4 linked regions of the Homo sapiens genome follow. The protein of the gene in region 1 interacts with the protein of each later gene in a biochemical or structural test. Each region holds a gene or a part of one and is shown in the gene's direction. Other genes may lie near its edges.

Region 1 (7,046 bases):
AAAGAAATGAACACCACCTTTCTGGTTGGCATGATCATCAATTTCTCAGCCAAAACGGCATGCATCCTTGGCTCTGGGAAACAGTACATCTCCCAGGAAAGTGAGCTTACAGCACGGTACCCCACTTCCTGGTTACCAGACTATTGTTCCCGTTTTCCCCAAGAACAGTCATCATTCACAGGTTGTTTGGCAGGGCCCAGGAACAGAGTCACTCTGGTTGCTACAGCCAACAGACCAAACACGGCTTCCAGGCAGGAAGGTCAGAGCTGCTCTGCAGGATGCACATGCAGGTTGGAAGCAGACAGGGCTGGCCGAGCACAGATATGCTGGCTGTGTCCTACACACAGGTGCCTACACACACATCCTTCAGATCCGGGCTGCACTCTATCAGCCAACCCACGGACTCTGTTTTTTCTAATTTGCACAGATTCTTTGTCAACCTGCCATGCCCTGAGACTGCTGAACTTCATCCAACAGAGAGGGTACCTTTTGCAAATCTGCAAAAATCAACTTTGTGTGCTAGGGTGGCCTGACAGGGCTAGGCCTTGGGGTCTTGGGGACCAGCATTCCACCTCTCCTCTCATACAGTGATTCTGGATTCCAGCCCAGCAAAAGTCAGCCAACCTTGGGGCCTTCCTTTCTTTCATCCTTTCTTTTTTTTCCTTTTCTATCCTTCTGTGCCTCCCTTCCTACCCCCTTCCTTCCTTCTTCTCATTTGCCTTTTTTTTTTTCAGTTCTTTGATGATCCTGAGAAGCTACTAAATATAGCAAAAGGGAGATAACACAGAACAAAATTAGAAGTCTATTTATAAAAATGAGCCTCTTCCATCCCTTCCGCCAATGTCATCTCTCACCCGGGTCTCGCCAGAGCACTCATGGACCTCCCTTTGGTGAGGCCCAAAGTCCATCCCAGCCACGCCCTGCGGTCCCGAGTCTGAGTCCATTGTTCTGGCTTTCACTCTGCTCTGCATCCCGTCACTGGCCCCAGACCTCGACGCCCACCTCTTCAGCGAAGGCGAAACAAGGACTCATTTTTCCTCCCTCTCTTCGCTCTTTCTTGTTTTCAGACTGCACTGTTTTTCTGCTGGCCGGATGACTCATTTCTTTGTCATCTCTTACCCCACTTGGCCTTTTCAGCTGCTCGAATCGCCTCTGTGTGATGCGGACAGAGCTATCGCCCTGCTGGGGTGAGATTCACTTGCATTGAATCAGCTCAAGGCGCAGGAAGGTCCAGGGAAGCCAAGGAAGAGAAGAGACAAGTCTCCAACTCTCTCAGGAGCAAAGACAAAAATATGCTCCTGCTCTCTTATCTCTTATTCAGACCGTTCAGTTGCAAAAGGGTTGAACATGATGCAGCGGGTGGTATGTGTGGACCAGCCCTAGGTCGTGCTTCTCCTCCATCTGGTCCCCCCACCCCTAGTTATCCAGAAAGGGGGATGTTCCCAGGCAATGCCAACATGTCCATACTGCACTCTTCACATTGCAGTTTCCCGGCATCTGGGATTGCATTCCTTTTGGAAGGACTTTGAGTTCTTGAAATAAAGAAGTAACTTGGTGGGCATCTGGAAAAAACACCCAAACTGTATCCCAGGCTGGGGTGCAGGAGCCTATCGAGAGGGCTGGGTGGTGTGGACAGCGTGATGAAGAAGGTCAAGTTCCTTGTACTCACTCGTTTGCTGTTTCATTCACAATTCCTGTGAGGTGGGAGCTCTCACCATCCTTGGGTCTTGCTTAAGAGTAAGGAGTGGGGCAACCTAGAGATACATGAACATCAAGGAGAAATGGGGAGGGAGTTTCACATGAGCTATTTTTACAAGATTAAGTAATGGGATAAAATTTAAAAGGGGAATTTAAGAGGAATTTTGGGCAGTTTTGAGAAACAGGAAATTTGAGGAAAGCTGAGAAAGAGAAGATCTGGAGTAAGTCTCTGTGATGAGAAGATTCCACCCCGCACTCCTGTTCTGGGTGGCCTTGGCTCCTGACTCCCTTTCTTCTGAAACTGCCTGGAGCCAGGGAGTAGCACAGCTGCTTCCTCCCGGGGAGAAAGGGACACCCAAAGAGCGCACTCCAGGGAGACCTTGGGCACTGCGGGCTCAAAGGCTGGAGATGGCACTTCTGTTCCCTCCTGATGGGACAGGTGCAGGGAGGCTGAGAGGATGCCACGCTGGCGAGCCTCCCTCTGAGCTGTGTTTTCTCATTGGAATTGCTGTACCCGGAGCCTCCTGCAGGTTTCCCTCGCCCTCTCCCTAAGCTCCTCTGCCTGACACAGGAGCCCGGGGAGAATCTGTCAGGCATGAAATGTAGCGAGGCAAGGAGGGTGATCAGCACCTCCCACGGGGGAGTTCGTTTCGAAGTAACAATCAAAGATCCAGAGCCGGACCCAGGCAGGGAGGCAAGGCCTGGAAGCCCCTGTGCCTCCAGGCCCCTAGGACGCTCGGGGGAGGGGGAGGGGGAGGGTGGGACCTGAAGTTGTTGTGACCGAAGGGAAATGAGTCAGGGAAAGAAATGCCATGCTTTAATTTTTGTGGATGAAGGAGGGAACAGGCCGCCAGACCACAAAATAACACCCGGCCGACTAACCTACTTTTAGCTGCCGAGGGCAGGATCACAGAGGAGAGGCAGATGGAAACTGGGGCTCTGGGGTCCAGGAAGATCTGAGTCTTCCGACCAAACATCATTTGCCTCCCCTCCTTCCTGCAAATATGCACATTGCCGGATCTGCTGCAGTCTATGAAAAAGGAGACAGATGTTCTGGCAGAGCGGTGGGGGGGGTGGGCGTGGAGGTTGGGTTGGGGGGCCTCTGCTTTGTGGGGAGAACCTCAGGCAGGGGAGTAGGCTCCATCCTGCGTGGAGGAACCTGAGCAGTCTAAGGCAGGCTGGCTCTATGATGTGCTGGCAATAAAATCCCAATGGCTTCCGCTGCAGAAGTCCAAGAGGACATGACTGCGGCTCCATCTAGTCAAGCCCAGGGCAGGAATTCCCTTCCAGGAAACCAAGCCAGAGCGCTGTGGTCTCTGGGCTGCCAAGATGTCTCAGAAATGGTCTAGCCCTTCAGCCCACAGAAATCTCTGGGCAAAATTATCTCCCAGCATTGACAGACGAATGGATAAACAAAATGTGTTCTATCCCACAGTGGAGTATTATTCAGCTTTAAAAAGGAAGGAAAAATGCTGGGCGCGGTGGCTCACGCCTGATCCCAGCACTTTGGGAGGCTGAGGAAGGAGGATCATTTGTGCCCAGGAGTTCGAGACTAGCCTGGACAACATAGAGAAACCTTGTCTCTACACACACACACACACACACACACACACACACACACACACACTCTCTCTCTCTCTCTCTCTCTCTCTCAGCCAGGCACAGTGGCACATGCCTGAAGTCCCAGCTCTGGGAAGCTGAGGCAGGAGGATCTCTTGAGCCTGGTGGGTCAAGGCTGCAGTGAACCATGTTCATGCCACTGCACTCCAGTCTGGATGACAGAGCGAGACCTAGTCTCAAAAAAAAAAAAAAAAAAAAGAAAGAAGAAAGAAGAAAGGAAAAAGAAAAAAAGGCAGCGGGGGCGCGGTGGCTCACGCCTGTAATCCCACCACTTTGGGAGGCCAAGGCGAGCGGATCACGAGGTCAGGAGATCGAGACCATCCTGGCTAACACGGTGAAACCCCGTCTCTACTAAAAATACAAAAATTAGCCGGGCGTGGTGGCAGGCGCCTGTAGTCCCAGCTACTCAGGAGGCTGAGACATGAGAATGGCATGAACCCGGGAGGCGGAGCTTGTAGTGAGCCGAGATCACACCACTGCACTCCAGCCTGGGCGACAGAGCGAGACTCCATCTTAAAAGAAAAAAAAAAAAAGGACATGCTACAGCATGGATGCACCTTGAAGACATTTGCAAAGTGAAACAAACCAGTCGCAAAAGAAGAAACACTGTCTCATTCCACTTCTAGGATGTATGTAGAGCAGTCAGGTTCATACAGACAGAAAGTAGCAGCGTGGCTGCTGGGGAAAAGGGGAATGGGGAGTTATTCTTTAATGGCTACAGAGTTTCAGTTAGGGGTGATGGAGAAGTTCTGGAGATGGGCGGTGGTGACGGCCGGCCGCACAGCAATATGACGTGCTTAATGCCACTGAACTGTGCACTGAACATCGTTAAGGTGGTAAATTTTGTGTTATATATATTTTGCAACAATAAAAAATATGTAGTTTCTAGAATCCTCTTCTAGATGCATGTCTGGCGTTTCTGCCGCGGGGCTGGCACTGGAGGAAGCCAGACAGGACAACATTGCGGCTTATCCTCCTCTGTTGCCATCATGGACCTCTCGCACCCCGTGATCAAGCTGTTTTTTCTCTCCTTCCAGAATTTAAGGGACGCTGTGAAGCAATCATGGATGCAATGAAGAGAGGGCTCTGCTGTGTGCTGCTGCTGTGTGGAGCAGTCTTCGTTTCGCCCAGCCAGGTTGGTGTGCAGGATCCCTGTGTCCCGCCCCTCAAGGCTGTGATGCTTCCGGAGGCTCCAGGGGTCTGTGTCCATCTGGGCCACGGAGGTTGGAATGCTGTCAGGGAGCAGAGAGGCACAGGGACGAGGGGCTGGCATTGCTGTGGAGCACACAGCACACACTCCCTTCTGTACAGCAAACTCTGTATTTGGGGGCCCAGTGTGTAGCTGGGCCCTAGGCACTTATTTTGACCTGAGTAAGCGGAATTAACATGCCACTCCCTGCCTGTGACTGCCTTTTTTTGCAGCTGTTTTTAAAGAATGTATTCAAATTAATCCATAAAGTACAGTTGTCCCTCATATCTATGGGGTATTTGTTCCAGGACCCCCAAGGATACCAAAATCCAGGGATACTCAAGTTCCTCATATAGAATGGTGTAGAGTTTGCATATCCTATGCACACCCTCCTGTATACTTTAAATCATCTCTAAATTACTTATAATACCTAGTACAATGTTAATGCTATGTAAATGGTTGTTATAAGGTATTTTTTAATTTGTGTTATTTTTATTGTTGTATTATTTATTTATATATTTTTTGGAAACAGGGTCTCACTCTGTCACCCAGGCTGGAGTGCAATGGCACAATCATAGCTCACTGCAGCACCAAACTCCTAGGCTTAAGCCTTGGCCTCCCAAAACTCTGGGGTTACAGGTGTGAGCCACAAGCCCAGCTTATATTATTATTTTTTATTTTTCTGTTTTGGTTGAATCCACAGATATGGAACCTGCAGATATACAAAGTGGACTGTATTTATAAAAGACAATGCAGGACAGGGCACAGTGACTCACACCTGTAATCTCAGCACTTTGGGAGGCCGAGGTGGGAGGATCGCTTGAGCCCAGGAGTTGGAGACCAGTCTGGGCAATATAGTGAGATGCTGTCTCTACAAAAAATTTAAAAATTAGCCGGGTGTACTAGTATGCACCTGTGGTCCCAGCTACTCAGGAGGCTGAGGCGGGAGGATCGCTTAAGTTCAGGAGGTTGGGACTTCAGTGAGATATGATTACGCCAATGCACTCCAGCCTGGGTGACAAACTGAGATCCTGTCTCAAAAAAAAAAAAAAAAAAAGAAAAAGGCAATGCAAGTGCCATGAGCCACAGCAGAGGCAAACTGCCCTCATGGTGCCTACTCTCTAGCTGAGATGGAAGCGCTACACACACTCTCTGAAAATGCCTAGCAATAAAGGGCCTCACGGAAGTCCAAACTAACCACACCTCTCCCACAGGACCCTACAGCGGGGAGAGCCAGGTGACTGCGTGGAGTAGACAGCCAGCTGCAACTCCATTGCCCAATATGGTGGCCACTTACCTTGTGCAACTGTTTAAATTTAAAATAATTAAAGTTAAAAATTGTTTCTCAGTCCCACTGGCCACATTCAAAGCACTCGGTGGCCCTGTGTGGCTTCTGTCGTGGACAGCACAGACAGAAAACATTTCCACCAAGCAGAAAGCTCTTCTGGACAGAGCCAGTCAGGAAGGAGAGGAAGAATTGGACTAGAAGGCAGGAGATGGACTTTCACTTGGGCCAGTTACCCGAGGGGGTCTCTGAGCAGAGGTATCTGGCCGGCAGGTTCACATGGGCTTCTGGGTTGGCCGCCTTTACTCTTAGTACACCTGGCATGTGCTGATCCTTCCTCCACCTCTGGTTTCTTCGCAGGAAATCCATGCCCGATTCAGAAGAGGAGCCAGATCTTACCAAGGTCGGGTGAAGCTGAGGGGTGCATGGGGTCATCAGGGAGGGAGGCAGGGCGGGGTGCAGGGTGCATCACCCACCCACCACCTGCCTTCTTCCACCCACCACCTGCCTACGGTGTGACAGTGCCATTGCAGCATGATTCTACAGAGATGCCTGTGTCGGCACCATTCTCCCATCAGCTGCGGCCACTGGGCGGGTTCTGATTCTGAGGGGAGCAGAAACAGGTGTTCCCCCCCAAGGAGCCAGGCTGTCAGGGATCACAACCTAGCGGGGGCTGGGGGGGGCGGCCACTGGCCCAAGGTCCTGGTTATACAGATCAAAAGGCAGAGCCCAGGAGAGAGCAAGTGGCTTGCCCAGGGTCACACAGCCGCCAGCAGCACGGCCAGGGCAGTCACAGCCGAGGCCAGGCCCATGCTCTGGGTCTCATCCTAGGCTGTGATCCCACCACAGTGCACCGGCAGCTTTGGTAACAACATCCCTGTGTATCCATTTCCCTCTGTTGATCCAACCGGGATGTCCCAACTGGGATGTCCCACCCAGGCAACCCCTCGACATGGTGGGGTCTCTAAGTCCACATCTAGAGTTGACTCTAGAAGGCTGAGGAATGCGAGGCCCAGCTTCAGGTCCAAAACTACCAACTTAGGCCCTCGATTTCCCTCCTTCACGACCCAGTTCCTTCGAGTCTGGAAGACTCTGCAATACCCTTTGTGAAGGTGTTAAAAAGGGTGACTCACTCCCCAGAGCGAGTCACACCTGGACTCTTAATGCCTTCGTTGTTGGATGGCATCCTGCTTCCTACCAGGTTATCCTGGCCTCAGTGACCTCAGAAGCAGCAAGGGTCTGACTTACAGTGGG
Region 2 (3,395 bases), on another chromosome or scaffold:
TTCCACTTTTTCTGAAAATATAAGACATACATATGGGAAAACCACCAATAAAAACAGAAAAGAAAATTAGCAAAAGAATATAAAATGAGGGCAAATTAAAAACCACATCTTCAATGGTTATCTCATTAATGAAATCTTTTAACATTATCTCCTAGGTTTTCTTCAGTATCCCAGTCTCTTAGATCTCTAAAATCCATTTAACAAAAGGGCAAAATATTTTCCTATCTCTGAATGAAAAAAAAAAATTTCTGATTCTCTTTTTGCAGATAATAAGGAGATTTTTCTTTCCAAAGCAATTCACAAGTCCTTCCTAGAGGTTAATGAAGAAGGCTCAGAAGCTGCTGCTGTCTCAGGTACTGTTTGCTAGAATCTTCTCCCCTCTTCTAGATTTGTATTTTTAGAGCAATCTTGAGTGGGGAGTGGGGTCATTTTCAAAATGAAGCCAAAAAAGTCACTCTGCTCTAACTTAGAAGTCAAGCAAATGCTGAACCAGCCGGAATTTTCTAAATAGAATGTGAAGTGTGAACTCACTCCAGTGCCCCTTTACAGATAACTCTCATCTTCATTTTCTCTCTAATGAGAGACAGGAGGACATTGGCAGTTCTGCGAAAATAGATTTTTTCTGCTGTGCTGCCTGTTTAAATATTTTAAATATTTTCCTGCTACCCATTTAAACATTTTTCTTCCTACCAAATTATTTGCTGAAGTTGATTCTTAATTTTGTCAGCAAAAAGTTCTTATTTTTTATTTTCATGGTTACATGGCAAATGTATATATTTATGGAGAATATGGGATATTTTTGATACAGGTATGTAATGCATAATAATGACATCAGGGTAAATGGGGTATTCATCACCTGAAGCATTTATCATTTCTTTTTATTACAAACATTTCAATCATACTTTTCCAGTTATTTTTAAATGTACAACAAATTGTTGACTTATAATCACTTTGATGTGCTATCAAATACTAGATCTTCATTCTATTTAACTGTATTTTCGTACCCACTAACTATCCCAACATACCCCACCTCTATCACTTTCATGATAGGATAGTATTTTCCGAAGTAAATAAGAGCATAGTAGCCTCAGGCATCAAGACAGCTTGAAATCTTACATGTAATCTGGACTTTCTTTTGACAATTAACTATACTGCAGCAAGTATATATCATCTTATAATGAGGATCTCAGGGGAATTTAGTAGCCCAGTCATAGGATACCTCGTTGTATCTCTCACTGTTATATTTTCCCTTTAATCACTGCCATCTTGACCACTTACTAGAAACCTGGTGACTTCCTATGTAAAAATACCCGCTTCAGACAAAAGAAATAATGATTTGAAAATATAGAGAAACTCTCTTCAGTTTTTGTTTGGGGATTTTTTTCTTTATTCTCCCCCTTCCTTTTACTCAAAAGTCATTTTAGTAAAGACACACATATTTATGTGAGGCTGAGAATAAACATTTCATAACAAGCAGAATAAATTGTCCTATTATTTTTAATGGAGTAGAAGGAAGAAATTGTTTGTTTGTTTTGTTTGTGGTGTGTGTTTGTTTTGTTTCGTTTTGCTTTTTAAAAAGATCAAGTAGAAATGTTAACACCTTTATAATTTTTCTCCAGTTAAGTCTTTAAAATCTTGTTTCCTGTAAATTGTTGTCTTTGCATTAGGTGGATAGGCATAGATGGTTTTGAGGAATTACTCATTAGTCTCTGCACATCCACAGACATATAATTACTTTTTATCTGCACTGTAGGAATGATTGCAATTAGTAGGATGGCTGTGCTGTATCCTCAAGTTATTGTCGACCATCCATTTTTCTTTCTTATCAGAAACAGGAGAACTGGTAAGTTTATTATGAAAACAAAATTTTATTTAATAGGTCACAAAGAACCTCTTTTTTAAATGGAGATTTTTTTCCTCAGTACTCATCATATAATTTCTTTTCACAATTTTATTTATTTATTCTCTTTCCAGAGATTGACCAACTGAATTATCAGATAGTTTATAATGTTGAAATGATTTTTTTTAATGAAAATAAGGCTGGTGAGGTGGCTCAGACTTTAATCTCAGCACTTCAGGAGTTCCAGGCAGGGAGGATCACTTGAGGCCAGGAATTCAAGACCAGCCTGGGTAACATAGTGAGACCCCATTTCTACATAAATAAAATTTTTAAAAAATTAGCCAGGCATGGTGGCACATGCCTGTTATCCTAGCTACTAGAGGTGTTGGGGGTGGAAGGAATGCTTGAGCTCAGGAGTTCACAGTTACAGTAAGCTCTGATAGAGCCACTGCACTCCAGCCTGGGCATCAGAGCAAGAGCCTTTCTCTAGAAGGAAAGAAGAAAGGAAAGGAAAGGGAAAGGGAAAAGGAAGGAAGAGAGAGAGGAAGGAAGGAAGGACAGGAGGAAGGAAGGAAGGAAGGAAGGAAGGAGAAAATAACATATTTTCATTAATTGTAAGCAAGAAGGAAGATAAATATTTTATTATTTTGTTCACCCCCTCTTTTGTTTACTTCTGAACCAATACAGGTACAATTCTATTCATGGGACGAGTCATGCATCCTGAAACAATGAACACAAGTGGACATGATTTCGAAGAACTTTAAGTTACTTTATTTGAATAACAAGGAAAACAGTAACTAAGCACATTATGTTTGCAACTGGTATATATTTAGGATTTGTGTTTTACAGTATATCTTAAGATAATATTTAAAATAGTTCCAGATAAAAACAATATATGTAAATTATAAGTAACTTGTCAAGGAATGTTATCAGTATTAAGCTAATGGTCCTGTTATGTCATTGTGTTTGTGTGCTGTTGTTTAAAATAAAAGTACCTATTGAACATGTGACTAGATCTATTTTTTTATTTTAGAAGTTGTAGTATAAAGATATCTCTAGGTGAACTTTGGAAACAATGTTTCTCTACCTCTTAAATCTCTTATGCAGGATCAAAACATCATAGTAAAATAGCATTATAAACTTATGCATAACAAGCAATAACAAGTGAGGTGAAGACAGGTACTCCACAAAAATTCTCACTGTAATTTCTTGGAAATAAGTGTATAGCGTAGGCAAAAGAATACAAACTGGACATCTTTCGTATTGCTTCATGACAAGACCTGTTAGAAAAAAACAACAGAGCTATGCAAATCTCAGATACCTATAGCTCATTTTTCCAAATCATTGAAAATTCATTTGGCTTCATATGCCTAAAGGAGTTTACAAGTCTGGTGTATCACTGTGTTTTGTTGCTGTAAGTAAAATCCAAGCTACAATTTCCCAAAAGCCCCAAAATAAACCACACGAGCAAACTAAAAATAAAAATATGCACTTTGGCACGTCACGGGAGAGTTAATTAGAAAAACCATGCTAGCACGCATACTGGAAAATGGCA
Region 3 (8,028 bases), on another chromosome or scaffold:
AGCTGGCCACACCCTCTGTGTCCCTTCCTCAGCCTGAGGGCCACCTTCCTTCTGCCCTGCCCTGGCTGCATTCGGTGCCCTGTGAGACGCCACCACAGTCCCCATAGCTTCAACCATCAGCCAGCCCTGGAAAACATGGGGCCTCTGGTTGCCTCATGTTTAGAAAGCATACTTCGTTCATTTTCCTACCACTGAAGGGCCAAGATAGAGTTGGGCCAAGGTGAGAAAACCAAGAAAGCAAAGCAGTTAACAAAAATATTAATTTTCTTTTACCATCTGCTACCCACCCAGAGTTCCAGGAACAAGGCCCCTTTTAGGTTATGTAATCATCAGGCTCCAAATTGTCTCCCGAGGGCCCAGCTGTGAATATAAAACCCTTCCCACTCTGAGAATGTGAGAGGTGGAGCCCAGTGTCGTTGAGGGGCCGTGCAAATGCTCTGCTCCGTGCTCAGGGCCCCCACCCTTGGCAGGACTACTGTGCACTGGGCCAGCCCAGCTGGCCTCCTGCTTCCCTGGCCTACTACATAAGAGATCCCTCCCTAAGTCAGACAGGGGAAGGTGGGGTCCCTAGAAGGCAGGGAAAAGCCTGAAGTACATAGTATTGTATTTTCTTTTGGAAGAATCTCAAACTCAGAAAATTTGCAACGACAGTACAAAGAACATTCTCCCCCTGAACTATGTAAGTTGTCAACACAGTACCATATCGCTGTCTAATACTTCAGTATGTGTGTTTCCTACAGACAAAGACACTCTCCTACATAATCACAGCACACCATCAAGTAGGACCATAACAGGGATACCGTCATGCGTTGCTTAACAATGGGAATACGTTCTGAGAAATGCATTGTCAGGCGAGTTCATCGTTGTGCTACCATGACAGAGTGTACTTACACAAACCTAGGTGGCATAGCCTACTACACACCTAGGCTCTCAGGTATGGTATGTTGCTCCTAGGCTACAAACCTGTACAGCACGTGACTGCACTGAATACTGTAGGCAGTTGTAACATAATGGTAAGTATTTGTGTATCTCAACATAGAAAAAGTGGAGTAAAAATATGGTATAAAACAGCAGTCCCCAACCTTTTTGGCACCAGGGACTGGTTTCATGGAAGACAATTTTCCCACGGATGCGGGGTTGGGGTGATGGTTTCAGGATGAAACTGTTCCACCTCAGATCATTGGGCGTTAGATTCTCATAAGGAGTGTGCAACCTAGACCTTCTCATGCACAGTTCACAATAGGGCTTGTGCTCCCATGAGAATGTAATGCTGCTGCTGACCTGACAGGAGGCGGAGCTCAGGTGGTAATGCTCGCCTACCCACCACTCACCTCCTGCTGATGGGCCTAGTTGCTAACAGGCCACGGACCAGTACTGTGGACCAGTACTGGTCCATAGCCTGGAGGTTGGGGACTCCTGATATAAAAGATAAAGAAAATGATACACTGGTATAGGGCACTTACCATGAATGGAGCTTGCAGGACTGGAAGTTGCTCTGAGTGAGTCAGTGAGTGGTGAGTGAACGTGGACATTACTGTACACTACTCTGGACTCTATAAAACACTGCACACATAAGCTGCATTACATTTTTTTAAAAAATGGTTTTCTTTTTTAATAATAAATTAACCTGAGCTTACCATAACTTTTTTTACTTTGTAAACTTTTGAACTCATTTAACTTTTTTACTTTTATAACATTTAGCTTAAAACACAAACACATTGAACAGTTGTACAAAATTATTTTCTCTATATCCTTATTCTATAGGCTTTTTCTAGTTATTATTACTTTTTTACTTTTTAAACTTTTTGTTAAAAACTAAGACACAAACGCACATTAGCCCATGCCTACACAGGGTCAGGATTATCAGTGTCACTGTCTTCCACCTCCACCTCTTGTCTCAGTGGGAGGTCTTCAGGGACAGTCACACACATGGAGCTATCATATCCTATGATAACAGTGCCTTCTTCTGGAAAACCTCCTGATGGACCCACCTTAGGCTGTTTCACAGTTAACTTTTTTAAAAAAAAAGTAGAAAGAGTACACTCTAAAATAATGATAAAAAGTATAGCACAGTAAATACATAAACCAGTGACACGGTCATTTATTATCATCGTATTAGTTCATTCTCGCACTGCTATAAAGAACTGCCCAAGAATGGGTAATTTAGAAAGGAAAGAGGTTTAATTGACTCACAGTTCTGCATGGCTGGGGAGGCCTCAGGAAACTAATAATCATGGTGGAAGGCAAAGGAGAAGCAGACACCTTCTTCACATGGCAGCAGGACAGAGTGAGTACAAGCAGGGGAAATGCCAGATGCTTATAAAACCATCAGATCTCATGAGACTCACTATCACGAGAACAGCATGGGAGAAACTTGCCCCCATGGTTCAATGACCTCCACCTGGTCTTTCCCATGACACATGGGGATTATGAGGATTACAATTCAAGGTGAGATTTTGGGTGGGGACACAGCCAAGCCATATCATTCCACCCCGGCCCCTCCCAAATCTCATGCTCTCACATTTCAAAGCACAATCATGTGGGGCAGAATGATATGGTTTGACTATGTTCTCACCCAAATTCTTATCTTGAATTGTAATCCTCATAATGCCCATGTGTCAAGGGAGAGACCAGGTGGAGGTCATTGAACGATGGGGGTGGTTTCCCCCATGCTGTCCTTGTGATAGTGAGTTCTCATGAGATCTTATGGTTTTATAAGTGTTTGGCAGTTCCTCCTGCATTCATTGTACCTCCTGCCTCCTTGCGAAGAAGGTGTTTGTTTCCCCTTCACCTTCTGCCACAATTGTAAATTTCCTGAGGCCTCCCCAGCCGTGTGGAACTGTAAATCAATTAAACCTCTTTCCTTTCTAAATTACCCAGTCTTGGGCAGTTCTTTAGAGTAGTGTGAAAACGGACTAACAAAATCAAGTATTATGTGCTAACATGACCTTATATGCTCTACTTCGATATGACTGGCAGTAAATTTGTTTACACCAGCATCACCACAAACTTGGGAATAATGAGTTGCACTATGACTTTACAACCCTTTGTGACATCACTAGGTGTTAGGAATTTTTCTGCCCCATTATAATCTTATGGAAGCATATCACATATGTGGCCTGTTGTTGACTGAACTGTCATGATGCAGCATGTGACAACACATCACTGCCGTGTGCTCCTCAGACCCCATCAGATTTCTCTGGTTGTCCCAACTGCATCCTTGAGAATGGAGGGTCCAGTCCAGAATCACATATTGCATTTAGTTCTGTGTCTTCAGTCTCCTTCAGCCTGAAACACTTCCTCAGCCAGGAGCTTTGAAAATTACTGGCAGTCATTTTGCAGAATGCTCCTCCATTTGGGATTGTCTGATGTCTCTCTGGCCGGAGTCCTATGGAGTGATGCCACATTCTCACTGCAGCCCCCCAGGTGCTGCAAGCTTTTTATTGGCCCTGTTGATGTTTACTTTGGTCACAGATGAGGTGATGTCTGCCAGCCTTCTTCACCATGAAGTTGCTCTTTTTCTCTCTGGAATGGATAAGTGTTTTGTGGGCAGATACTTTGAGGCTATGTAAACATCCCATTGAAGAACATCAGACTTTCAATGCGTTCCCTTACTTACTTATATCTGTGTGCACTGGTGGTTTCCCATCTGTTACTGTCACTATGTTGGTGCTCAAATTGTCCCTGATTCTGACCACTGAAGGCTCCTTCAAGCTGGCTCTGTGTCCTACTGACGTGTTCCCATTATTCATTAAGCACTTCCTTGTTTTCTGGCAAAACAACAAGTTCCGGGCTCATTTTCTGCACCCCACTCCTACTTCCCAGTGCTAGAATCAGCCGTTTCTGCAAGGTGCTCTGGTTCCTTTAGTGGAAAGTCATATTCAGAAGCCAGTATTCAGGTGCTAGGAGTGCTCCAGGCTATGCGGGGCTGGCTGCTCCAGGCCCCCCAGTGACTGTGGGGACTAGACACACACACATTTCCATCTATATATATGGACTTATCTTTATGTATTCAAGGCCACAAGGGTACACTGATCATTCCGATTTTAATCCCACACAACAGGATTCATTCCAGTTTTCTCTCCATATACATAACTTCCTTCTCTGACAATAGGAAACCTAACTCCCACTGTCTTCAGTAGATTTATTTGATCAGTATCCCTGTGTGTAACCAATCTCCCGTCTCTGCCACCAGCCTCTCTCCCACATGGATCCCCTCCTTGCCTCACTTGGACTCCAGCACTCCAGGCAGGGCCTTTGCTTTCCCCAGGATGCTCCCTCCACCCTGCTGGGCTCCCACACCCCACACCAGTCCACCCCTTGAGGGCACATTCTCCCCACATCCTCTCTGGTACCTCTGGGGCACGATGGCTTCTCCCTCCGCCACCTTTGCTATGCCCCACTTTGTGGCTTTAGGACAGGACTCAGGAGAAAGGGAAGACAAGAAGGGAAGGAATCCCTTGGATTTTTTAACCAAAAAATGCATCAAGTACATGGAGACAGAGCCACAAAATAATCATAACAAATATTCTAAACCAATCAGACAGCCAGCCCCAGATCACCCTATAAGGGGGCATTGCTACCCCGTGACAGCTGGGTAGCCTGGGCAAATTCCCTAACCTCACCGAGCCTCAATTTCCTCAATGGTAAAATGGGGAAAGGACAGTGCTTCCCTCGTGGTTTGGGTGTGAAGCTTCTGTGAGTTAATGTTAGTGAACAGCCAGCCTCAGCCCCTACCCAAGGTAGCTGCTCCGCAGATGTGATGACAACCACCGTGTGTTTCTCAGAATCCTAGGAAATAAGGGCTTCTTTCTAGAAGGCAGGGCCAGGATGCTGCGTGGGTGTTCCCTGGCAGAGAGGCTCTGTGGCCCTCAGGACTTCATCCTTCTGCAGGCTTGTGTGTTTGTTTTATTTTTTTGGCACGCCTGCAGCCAAGTTGGGGAGGGTTTCCTGGACAGAGGTCCTTTGGCTGCTGCCTTAAGACGTGCAGCCTGGGCCGTGGCTGTCACTGCGTTCGGACCCAGACCCGCTGCAGGCAGCAGCAGCCCCCGCCCGCGCAGCAGCATGGAGCTCTGGGGGGCCTACCTCCTCCTCTGCCTCTTCTCCCTCCTGACCCAGGTCACCACCGAGCCACCAACCCAGAAGCCCAAGAAGATTGTAAATGCCAAGAAAGGTAAGGAGGGGGACAGAGCCCTGTGCCATCTTCCAGGGAGCAGGTCCCCCTCTCCTTAGTGTGTCCTCATGCTCCTTTCCTTCATTTTCCTCCTTTTGAGTCATCTAGGGAACTTGAGTAAAGTGGGCTTTGGGGCTTGGGGGAGTTCTCTCATAGCAGAGTTGGTTGTCAGAATCATAAGAATCCCTGACCCTTAGAGTTGGGAAGAACCTTCCAGATCATCCAAACTGATCTTTGCTCTTCTCTCCTCCCCTCATCCCCAATATTTTAAAGAAACCAAACCTTTGGCCTGGGAGTCTGGCAGCGCTCAGCCCTTACCAGGGAGAGCTGCACAGGCTGGGCTTTGGAGTCTTCCAACCTGTTTTCTCAACTGTAAAATGGGGACAGTGGTATTTGTTCAAAGACTTCTCATGAAGATTTTATGATACAAAATATATAAAGGCACCTCACTTGTTGCTTGATGCACAGGGAAAAGAAAAAGAAGAAGAAATGAATTCTCATTTCTGTAGCATATCACAGCCTTCAGGAAATAAATGTAACTCAGACTAGTCCACCAGAAGCAGCTTTGCTCTGCTTTGTAGCCTCTGGGGATTGGGGTGTCCCTCGGTTGCTTTGGCTACAGCAAGACTTGCCCTTGCAGCCCCGCCTGCAGTGAGGTCACCCCAGGCTGTGTTGAGACAACATCAGTGGAATGTCATGGCAATGGACGGGGCTGTCACCCCCCCAGGGAGCAGAGGCTAGAAGAGAGTCCAAGGGGATGAGGGTGGGGACTGAGGCAGAGAAACAAGCAGCTAGGACCAAGGGCACAGAAAAGGAAAGAAGGGGCTGTGGGGGCCTCCCTTAGGCCCTCCCGGGGCTCTTCATAAATGGACAGTTGCCCACTGGCCAGGAACTAGTGCAGTGCATAAAGGGACATCGGGGCCATGGGGCCTCACAACACTGTGACAAAGAATGGGGCAAATCTGGCTGCTGATAAAAAAATCATCTTCAAGATTCAGTTTACAAAGTGAAAAAAGAAACATTCAAAAGAGAATGAGTATGATGCTGACATTTGCTTTGAAAAAGGGATTTATATAATAATACATTTTTACTTGTATGTGCATAAGTTCTTTCTGGAAGGATCCACAAGAGTGAGTAACAGTGATTACCTCTGGGAAGAAAAACCAGGGGCTGGGCGCAGTCTCAACTGGGAAAGAAACCAGCTTTTTGAACTGTTTGGATTTTAAAAAATTATGTGTGTATATTACCTTCCACAAAATGTTCATTTAAAAAGAGAAGACAATACCGTGCATAGTTACGTCTATGAGCATTAGCCAAAATCGCCACCAAGGGAGAGCCTTTGTAAAAGATGCAGCTCCAAAGGCAAATCATAGAATTTTTGAATGTGGAAAACCATCGCCAGCTTCTCAAGTTTACCAAAGATTCAGTATTAATATAATTATGTAAATCTTTTTAAACTCATGTTAAAAAAAAAAGGGTCAGAGCACGTGATGCCTTGGTTCTCTCCAGCTGTCACACTTGAACCCTGGCCCTATGTGGTCTCCATAGAAGGGGCCCCTGGAGTTCCAGGGCTACAGGCCAACAGAACAGCCACCCAGGCCCTGCCTCTCGCTGAAACCCATGGCAGTCTCCCGCCCACCAACATGGCAGGCACTTATAGAGCTCTTTCTCCACGTAGGCACCAGTCTATATGCTGGACACACAGCAGAGAAACACCGTCTCTGCTCTTAAGACATGAACCATGGTGGTTCTCACTCAGGCATCAACATCATCTGGGAGATACATTAGAATCCAGGTGCCTTGGCCAGGCGTGGTGGCTCAAGCCTGTAATCTCAGCACTTTAGGAGGCCAAGGTGGGAGGATCGCTTGAGGCCAGGAGTTCAAGACAAGTCTGGCCAACATGGTGAAACCCTGTCTCTACTAAAAATACAAAAATTAGCTGAGTGTGATGGTGTACACGTGTAGTCCCAGCTACTCAGGAGGCTGAGGCAGGAGAATTGCTTGAACCTGGGAGGTGGAGGTTGCAATGGGCCGAGATTGCACCACTGCACTCCAGCCTGGGTGACAGAGTAAGTGAGACTCCGTCTCAAAAATAAATCAATAAATAAAATAAAAGTTAAGAATTCAGGTGCTTGGGCCCCACCCCTGGAAATGCTGGTTTAGGGATCTTGGTGAGTTTAGCATCTGCCTTTTCCACAGGTCTTCAGGGATTCCTAGGAGCAGCCAGGAATGAGAATCTCAGGGGCAATCTAGTTGCAGGGCTGGTGCCCAAAAGTACGGGAGAAAGTCCAAAGAAGGGACGGTCATGCCAGAGGAGACCAGTTGGTGCCAGGGCCAAGAGGGGGAGAGCAAGTGGCAGGACTGGCAAAGGAAGGGAATGCCAGCATATGCTAAGTCCTTGTCCTGGCCCTCAGGGTGGGTGAGAAGCGGGGAGCCTAGAGTACTTCTGGGAGCTCATCTGTTCTTGGGGCCACATGGTCACACCTGGCAGGGAAGCTCCGGAGGGAAGGATGGCCTCATAGGAGTCACAGGCCTTTAGAACAGGGAACTGGGGGAACCTGGAGGGCATCCATTCTAACATCACGCAGAAGGAACCTGAGGCTCAGAGAGTGGGCCAGCACAAAGGCCTCCTGACTCTGCCCAGGGCCGTAGAGACACCTACTCCCACAGCTTCCTCAGGTGGAGCTAATGAGAGTAGCTTCCTGTACCTTGGACAGTCCCTGGAGGAAACTTTGCACATATGGGCACCTTGGTGCAAATTACAAAAGGTACCTCCTCTAAACTGACAAATTATAGAAAGGCATCTCTTTTTCTGGTCTGACCCACTCTAGCCAGGGCAAGGCTTAGGAGACAAA
Region 4 (7,000 bases), on another chromosome or scaffold:
GGGTCTCAAACATGTAGCCCAGGAGAGCCTAAGTGAACCTGGGGCCCTCTCCAAACAGATCCTGGGGGAGACTCAGTGCACACCCGGAGAAGCAGCTCCTCCCCATCGGATCTCTAGTGCTTGGCAGGGGGCGGGGTCTTGAGGGGGTGTCCACAACACATGGCAGACTGCAGATGAAGAAACTGAGGCCCAGAGGGGGTGAGGCTTGCCCAGGGTGACCTAGTAGCTGAATAGATGGGAGAATGGAGGCCAGGGCCTCACTGAGACTCTCTGGTCAGCTGCCCCTGGGCTGTATCCAATAAGGAAACTCCCCTGCTTCTGAAGCTGTTCTCGAAATTATCAGCTCAGTGTGACCCTGTGGGGGGTTGAGCCACATTGTTTCTTTAGAAGCATCTCCATACATGGCTGGTTCCAACCCTTGGCAGGAGGGACCATATTGTGCTGTAAAATAGACTCATTTAGAGAAGCCGGAGATTAAAGCACCCACCTATGTCCTTCAAAGCTCTCCAGGCAAGTGCCATGGTGGGAACAGGTAGGGAGTGTCAGTGGGGGGAAGCCCAGACTCTGCTCACTCATTATCTGCAGATTAGGGCTATTGTTGGTGGCTACTAAGTCAGGGATTTCAAAATCAGGAAGATGCAGCCAGGAAAAGAGGAGGCAGGACTCTGCAGAGGAGGCAGGACTCTGCAGAGTCAGAGTGATAACCGAGTCTGAGTCCAAGCTTTGCCAGTGTTAGCAAGCGACTCCATCTCTCTGAACCTCGGATTACCCATCTGTAAAATAGAGCTAGCAGCAAGATGTACCTTTTTGGGTGGTGCAGGGCTGAAGGAGTTGGCACAGTGCCTGAAAGAGGGTGCGGGCAATGCGCCCAACTGCTGTGGCTGCTGGGTTTGGTGCCAGGTTCGATTCTGCAGGCAGAAACTTCTACATGAGGCTCCTTCTCGGAAGGAGCTCAGGACACAATTTGGAGGCTGGGCTGGCAAGGGTGACCTGCTGGAGCTATTCAACTTCACTTAAAGACAGGCCTGCAGTCCAAGCCTGCCCAATTCCTGAGACCATTCTCTCTCCACTGCTGAGCCCCACGGCCACTCTGCAAGGGATTTCCCACCCACCTGTTTGGGGCCCTTTGGAGTTTGGTTTTAATTGGGTCACGGGATGCTGTGACAGGCTGCCCCTGCCTGGTGGGGATCTGGGGTCACTGATGACATTGTGCCCATGGAGAGAGCCCAGCAGAAAGGGATTCCCTCCAAGGCGACACACAGGGCAAAGCTCACATCAGAAGCCAGGCAGGCCCTCTGCACCTGGTAATTAGCCAGCCTGGGTGCTGTCAGGCTCACACGTGTGTGTGTGTGTGTGTGTGTGTGTGTGTGTGTGTGTGTAAAGCATGTACCCTATGGTACAGTTGAGAATATGGAGGCCTCAGATGGGGCTTTTGCCAGAAACTGCCATGCCTACTGCTCACACTTCCATAGCACGTGCCCCCAAGCACCCCATGGTGTAGGTGCTGTTATTATCACTATCTTACAGTTATGGAGCAGTGGCTCAAGGTGTAACTGACTTGCCCAAAATCACACTACAAGGACACAGCAGGGCTGAGATTTGAACCCAGGCAGTGGCTTCAGAGCCTGAGCTGTTTCCTACTGCAGAGGGAGGAGGCAAGACTTCTACCCGTAGCCAGATGGGGAGGCATGGGCACAGGAACGGCTCTTGGGTGAAGTGGAGGGAGGAAGAGGAGGACTGAAGGCCAAGGCCACGTCAGGAGTGATGGGAGACCCCACAAAGGCCTCCCTGAGAAGAGCTAGAGACAAAGATGAGTGCCTCCTCATCTGGAAGATGAAAAGATGTCTTTGCCTGCATGGGCTGCTGTCACAAAGTCCCAGGGGCTAGGGGGCTTCAACAACAGAAATTTCTTTCTTTACAACTCTGGAAGCTGGAAGTCTGAGATTAAGGCACCAGCAGGATTTGTTCCTTCCAAGGCCCCTCTCCTTGGCTCACAGGTGGCTGCCTTCTCCCTGTCTTCACCTGGTCTTCCCTCTGTGCATGTCTCTATCCTGATCTCCTCTTTTTAATTTTTGTGTAAGGACGTAGTCATATTGGGTTGGGGCCCACTCTAGTGACCTCATTCTAACTCAGTCCCCTCTTTAAAAGCCCTATCTCCAGATATAGTCACATTCTGGGGTATTGAAGGTAAGGACTTCAGCATATGCATTTTGGGGGCACAATTCAGCCAGAACAGGAGGACGGTGGGGATGTCCACATGAAGAGGTTCAGGCAGAATTCCTTTAGGAGGGGAAGATGTCTCTCTGTGGGACAAGGGTGGCATGGAGCAGCCCCTGGGGGAAGGAGAAGGGGACAGTTTGCATACTGGTATTCTGCCTACCCCAGGGTGGACACTCACTCAGCGTTTGCTGAATGAACAGGGCAAGGCCAGCAGTGCTGATGGTCCCAGGCATGTAGCTGGTCTGAGTTCATAGAAGGACCACAGCGCCCTGCCATGTGCCAAACCAGGACACCAGAGTGAAGGCCAGAAGCTCACATGGAAGCAGCTTAGTTCCCTGGTAACCTCGAGATGCTGATGAGACAGAGCAGAGCAGAGGGAACCCTCTCCCTCCATATCCCATCCTCCAAAATGTGTCCCTTGATGTGGATGGGTAGACAGGATTCCTGCCCTGGCAGCCAGACCCCTGCCTTGGGTCTGCACCTCCTCTCCCTCCTTCCTCTCCCCGTCATCCCTAAATCTTGTCCTCGAGCCACTGCCACCCTGTGTAAACCCTCATGCCCAGTCTTGCGGGTGCCATCCCTTCTCTTTGAAGCTGAATGGACCAAACATACCCATTGAGTGTTGGGTGGGGACATCTCTGGAAAGTCAGCACCTGGACCAGCTCCACCCCTCTCTGAGGACACCTTCTTTCCCTTTCAGAACAAAGAACAGCCACCATGCAGCTCTTCCTCCTCTTGTGCCTGGTGCTTCTCAGCCCTCAGGGGGCCTCCCTTCACCGCCACCACCCCCGGGAGATGAAGAAGAGAGTCGAGGACCTCCATGTAGGTGCCACGGTGGCCCCCAGCAGCAGAAGGGACTTTACCTTTGACCTCTACAGGGCCTTGGCTTCCGCTGCCCCCAGCCAGAGCATCTTCTTCTCCCCTGTGAGCATCTCCATGAGCCTGGCCATGCTCTCCCTGGGGGCTGGGTCCAGCACAAAGATGCAGATCCTGGAGGGCCTGGGCCTCAACCTCCAGAAAAGCTCAGAGAAGGAGCTGCACAGAGGCTTTCAGCAGCTCCTTCAGGAACTCAACCAGCCCAGAGATGGCTTCCAGCTGAGCCTCGGCAATGCCCTTTTCACCGACCTGGTGGTAGACCTGCAGGACACCTTCGTAAGTGCCATGAAGACGCTGTACCTGGCAGACACTTTCCCTACCAACTTTAGGGACTCTGCAGGGGCCATGAAGCAGATCAATGATTATGTGGCAAAGCAAACGAAGGGCAAGATTGTGGACTTGCTTAAGAACCTCGATAGCAATGCGGTCGTGATCATGGTGAATTACATCTTCTTTAAAGGTAAGGCCCTTGGGCCCAAACCTGCACTTTCTTTGGCTTTTCTGCTGCTTTTATCTAAAGAATACCCAATTCCCTCACATACATAAAAGACGGGGAGTACGTTAAGTTCTTTTGGGTGCCTGTTGAGAAAAATTAAGTAAACAAGCAGCCAGAGAAGGTAAGATGAATGCCTTCTTGCTGTGGATGGGATTAGTGAGGCTGAGATGCTGTTTCCTCCACGGAGGAAGAGCTGGTTGCTGTCTTCGGGCCCCTGGGGACATCTGAAGCCCCAGCTTTCTACAGGCTCTGAAGTATGAACCCATTGTGGCCACCATGGCAAAGACACCAACACCTTAGCCACTCAGGGCAGGACACAGACCCCAGAAGGGCTTAAAGGGCATTTCCCAGTCCCCCGTATCCCTCAGATCTTGGCCCCTCTGCCCTCATAGAGGCCAAGACTCCCTCAGACAAATGCTTGTTCCTCTGAAATGCCTCCTCCTGACTCCTCAGCAAGAGCTGACCTCTGCTTATCTCCCCGACACTCCTTGTAAGCATTCCTGCTCGCCTCTGCAGCTCCTGCCAGTTGCTGACCCTGGGGAAAGCAAGAGTGGATAGAGAGGAGAAGAGAGGAGAGGAGAGGGTGGGAAGGGTTGCGAAGGAAGGTAAATTGTTAACACCTCCCCTTCCTATGGTCACAGATCATGAGTATCTTTGGCCATTTGGGTGGCTATAACAAAATACCATAAACTGGGTGGCTTAGCAACAACAAACATATATTTCTCATAGTTCTGGAGGCTGAGAAGTCCAGGATCAAGGCACTGGCAGATGCAGTGCCCATTCCTTGGTTCATAGAGAGTGCCTTCTTAGTATATCCTTGCTGGAAGGAGGAAGGCAGCTCTCTGTGGTCTCTTTTGTAAGGACACCGATCCTGTTCATGACAGCTCCACCCCCATGACCTAATCAACTCCCAAAGGCCCCCTGTCCTAATACCACCACCTTGGGGGTTAGGTTTCAACATATGAACAATGTGGGGACACAAACATTGAGACCACAGCAGTGAGTGTCGAACTTGGACTCTGAGATTTCCTATCCCCTGGTGCAGGGCAGTCCCCATTACACCAGATTGCTGAGGGCAGCTGGGAAATAAGCTAAGGACGGTATTGACTGGGGTCTTCCTTCGATAACGATTAAGAAGTTGGAAACAGGCCAGGCATGGTGGCTCACGCCTATAATCCCAACATTTTAGGAGGCCGAGATGGGCAGATCACCTGAGGTCAGGAGTTCGAGATCAGCCTGGCCAACATAGTGAAACCCCGTCTCTACTAAAAAATACAGAAATTAGCCAGGCATGGTGGTGGGCGCCTGTAATTCCAGCTACTTGGGAGGCTGAGGCAGGAGAATCACTTGAACCTGGGAGGTGGGGGCTGTAGTGAGCCAAAATTGCGCCACTGCACTCCAGCATGGGTCACAGAGCGAGACTCCATCTCAAAAAGAAGAAAAAAAGAAAAAAAAGAAAAAAAGAAATAAAATAAAATAAAAAGAAGTTGGAAACAATCACTTGTAGCGTTTTGTTCAGAAGTTCCCATAGGAAGGTCAGAGAAGGGTCATTGAAGACTTCCCAATGGGAAAAACCATTCATTTCCAGGATCCATACTAACTTCTTTCTAAAATTTAAATCAAAATATTGGAATGAAAGTGCAAACAGAGAAGTTCACCCAGATATCAGGTAGCATTCACAGCCAGCCACATTTTTCACCCTCTTCACTTGGAGATTTGGTCTTGAGTAAAACGTTAGAGAATCAGAGAACATCAGGGGTCCAGGGCCTCTGAAGATGTGAAAACCAACCTCCTTGTTTTGCAAATGTGGAAGGAAAAGTCCCACGAAAAGTCCAAGAATGTGCCCAATGTTATAAAGAGACTTGCCTTCATATTCAAGAGGTTCAACAGTCACTGCTCTGGGGCTGCCATAAAGATGGTCTCCGCTGGCTATCTTTACTGTCTTCACTCCTTTTATTTGCAGCTGAGAATTTCTAATTCTGACACAAAATTCTTTTTCATTTTTCCCTTTTTTCATCTTTAGCTAAGTGGGAGACAAGCTTCAACCACAAAGGCACCCAAGAGCAAGACTTCTACGTGACCTCGGAGACTGTGGTGCGGGTACCCATGATGAGCCGCGAGGATCAGTATCACTACCTCCTGGACCGGAACCTCTCCTGCAGGGTGGTGGGGGTCCCCTACCAAGGCAATGCCACGGCTTTGTTCATTCTCCCCAGTGAGGGAAAGATGCAGCAGGTGGAGAATGGACTGAGTGAGAAAACGCTGAGGAAGTGGCTTAAGATGTTCAAAAAGAGGTACTTTCAGACTACCCCAGGGCCAGCCTAAACCCACACAGCCCCAGGGAGACACACACGCCCTACCAGGGCCACACAGCACTGGTGGGAAGGACTCACCCAGCCAAGGAGCTGCCTCCAGGCCCAGAGGCATCCTGTGACATCCAAGTCCTGGGGGCCTAGCCCAGTTGGAGGGACAAGAGCTGGAAACTGGGTTCCTTAGGGTGGTGCCAGAGTGGGCAGAGACCTCTGGGCAGCCCACGTCCAAGTCCAGAGCAAGGGGAGGCTCATCCTAGAAAAGAGGCCAGAGGAGCCATAACCACCATTGTTCCTTGGGTTAAGGAGTCCTTTTTTAAAACCATCAAAACTAAGAATCCAGTGCATTATGAATCCAAGGGGTGAGGCTCAGTGTGCCAATGCCCCAGAACAGTCTAAGAAAGCTCCTTTTCCCTTTCCAGGCAGCTCGAGCTTTACCTTCCCAAATTCTCCATTGAGGGCTCCTATCAGCTGGAGAAAGTCCTCCCCAGTCTGGGGATCAGTAACGTCTTCACCTCCCATGCTGATCTGTCCGGCATCAGCAACCACTCAAATATCCAGGTGTCTGAGGTGGGTTCAGAAGCTCCTATGCATCTGCTTCCCAAGGTCTATTCTGTTCTATTCTTTCTATTCTACTCTACCCCATTTCATTCCATTCCATTCCACTCAACTCCACTCCACTCCACTCCACTCCAGTTCACTCTATTCAATTCCACTCCACTCCACTCCAGTTCACTTTATTCAATTCCACTCCACTCCACTCCAGTTCACTCTATTCAGTTCCACTCCACTCCACTCCACTCCAGTTCACTCTATTCCATTCCACTCCATTCCACTCCTCCACTCCTCTCATCCACTCCACTCTACTCCTCCACTCCACATCTCCACTCCACTCCTCCACTCCACTCCTCCACTCCACTCATCCACTCCACTCCTCCACTCCACTCCTCCACTCCACTCCTCCACTCCACTCCACTCATCCACTCCACTCTTCCATTCCACTCCATTCCACTCCTCCACTCCACTCTTCCACTCCACTCCATTCCACTCCTCCACTCCACTCCACTCTATTCTATTCTATTCCATTCCATTCTACTCT

What was found.
Region 2: the proteins of PLAT (region 1) and SERPINI1 form a complex in vitro, tested with the Homo sapiens proteins (one study listed by BioGRID).
Region 3: the proteins of PLAT (region 1) and CLEC3B form a complex in vitro, tested with the Homo sapiens proteins (one study listed by BioGRID).
Region 4: the proteins of PLAT (region 1) and SERPINA5 form a complex in vitro, tested with the Homo sapiens proteins (one study listed by BioGRID).

Annotation. Positions count from the first base shown.
Region 1 is NC_000008.11:42,190,521-42,197,566, reverse strand, and holds part of PLAT (tissue-type plasminogen activator isoform 1 preproprotein), read left to right. Parts: intron 1-4,355; 5' UTR 4,356-4,381; coding exon 4,382-4,453; intron 4,454-6,152; coding exon 6,153-6,195; intron 6,196-7,046. UniProt on the Homo sapiens protein: Converts the abundant, but inactive, zymogen plasminogen to plasmin by hydrolyzing a single Arg-Val bond in plasminogen.
Region 2 is NC_000003.12:167,822,720-167,826,114, forward strand, and holds the end of SERPINI1 (neuroserpin precursor), read left to right. Parts: intron 1-266; coding exon 267-353; intron 354-1,753; coding exon 1,754-1,843; intron 1,844-2,527; coding exon 2,528-2,604; 3' UTR 2,605-2,850; downstream 2,851-3,395. UniProt on the Homo sapiens protein: Serine protease inhibitor that inhibits plasminogen activators and plasmin but not thrombin. May be involved in the formation or reorganization of synaptic connections as well as for synaptic plasticity in the adult nervous system.
Region 3 is NC_000003.12:45,021,299-45,029,326, forward strand, and holds the start of CLEC3B (tetranectin), read left to right. Parts: upstream 1-5,004; 5' UTR 5,005-5,064; coding exon 5,065-5,173; intron 5,174-8,028. UniProt on the Homo sapiens protein: Tetranectin binds to plasminogen and to isolated kringle 4. May be involved in the packaging of molecules destined for exocytosis. Plays a role in retinal function.
Region 4 is NC_000014.9:94,584,426-94,591,425, forward strand, and holds part of SERPINA5 (plasma serine protease inhibitor preproprotein), read left to right. Parts: intron 1-2,920; 5' UTR 2,921-2,937; coding exon 2,938-3,556; intron 3,557-5,615; coding exon 5,616-5,886; intron 5,887-6,323; coding exon 6,324-6,471; intron 6,472-7,000. UniProt on the Homo sapiens protein: Heparin-dependent serine protease inhibitor acting in body fluids and secretions. Inactivates serine proteases by binding irreversibly to their serine activation site. Involved in the regulation of intravascular and extravascular proteolytic activities.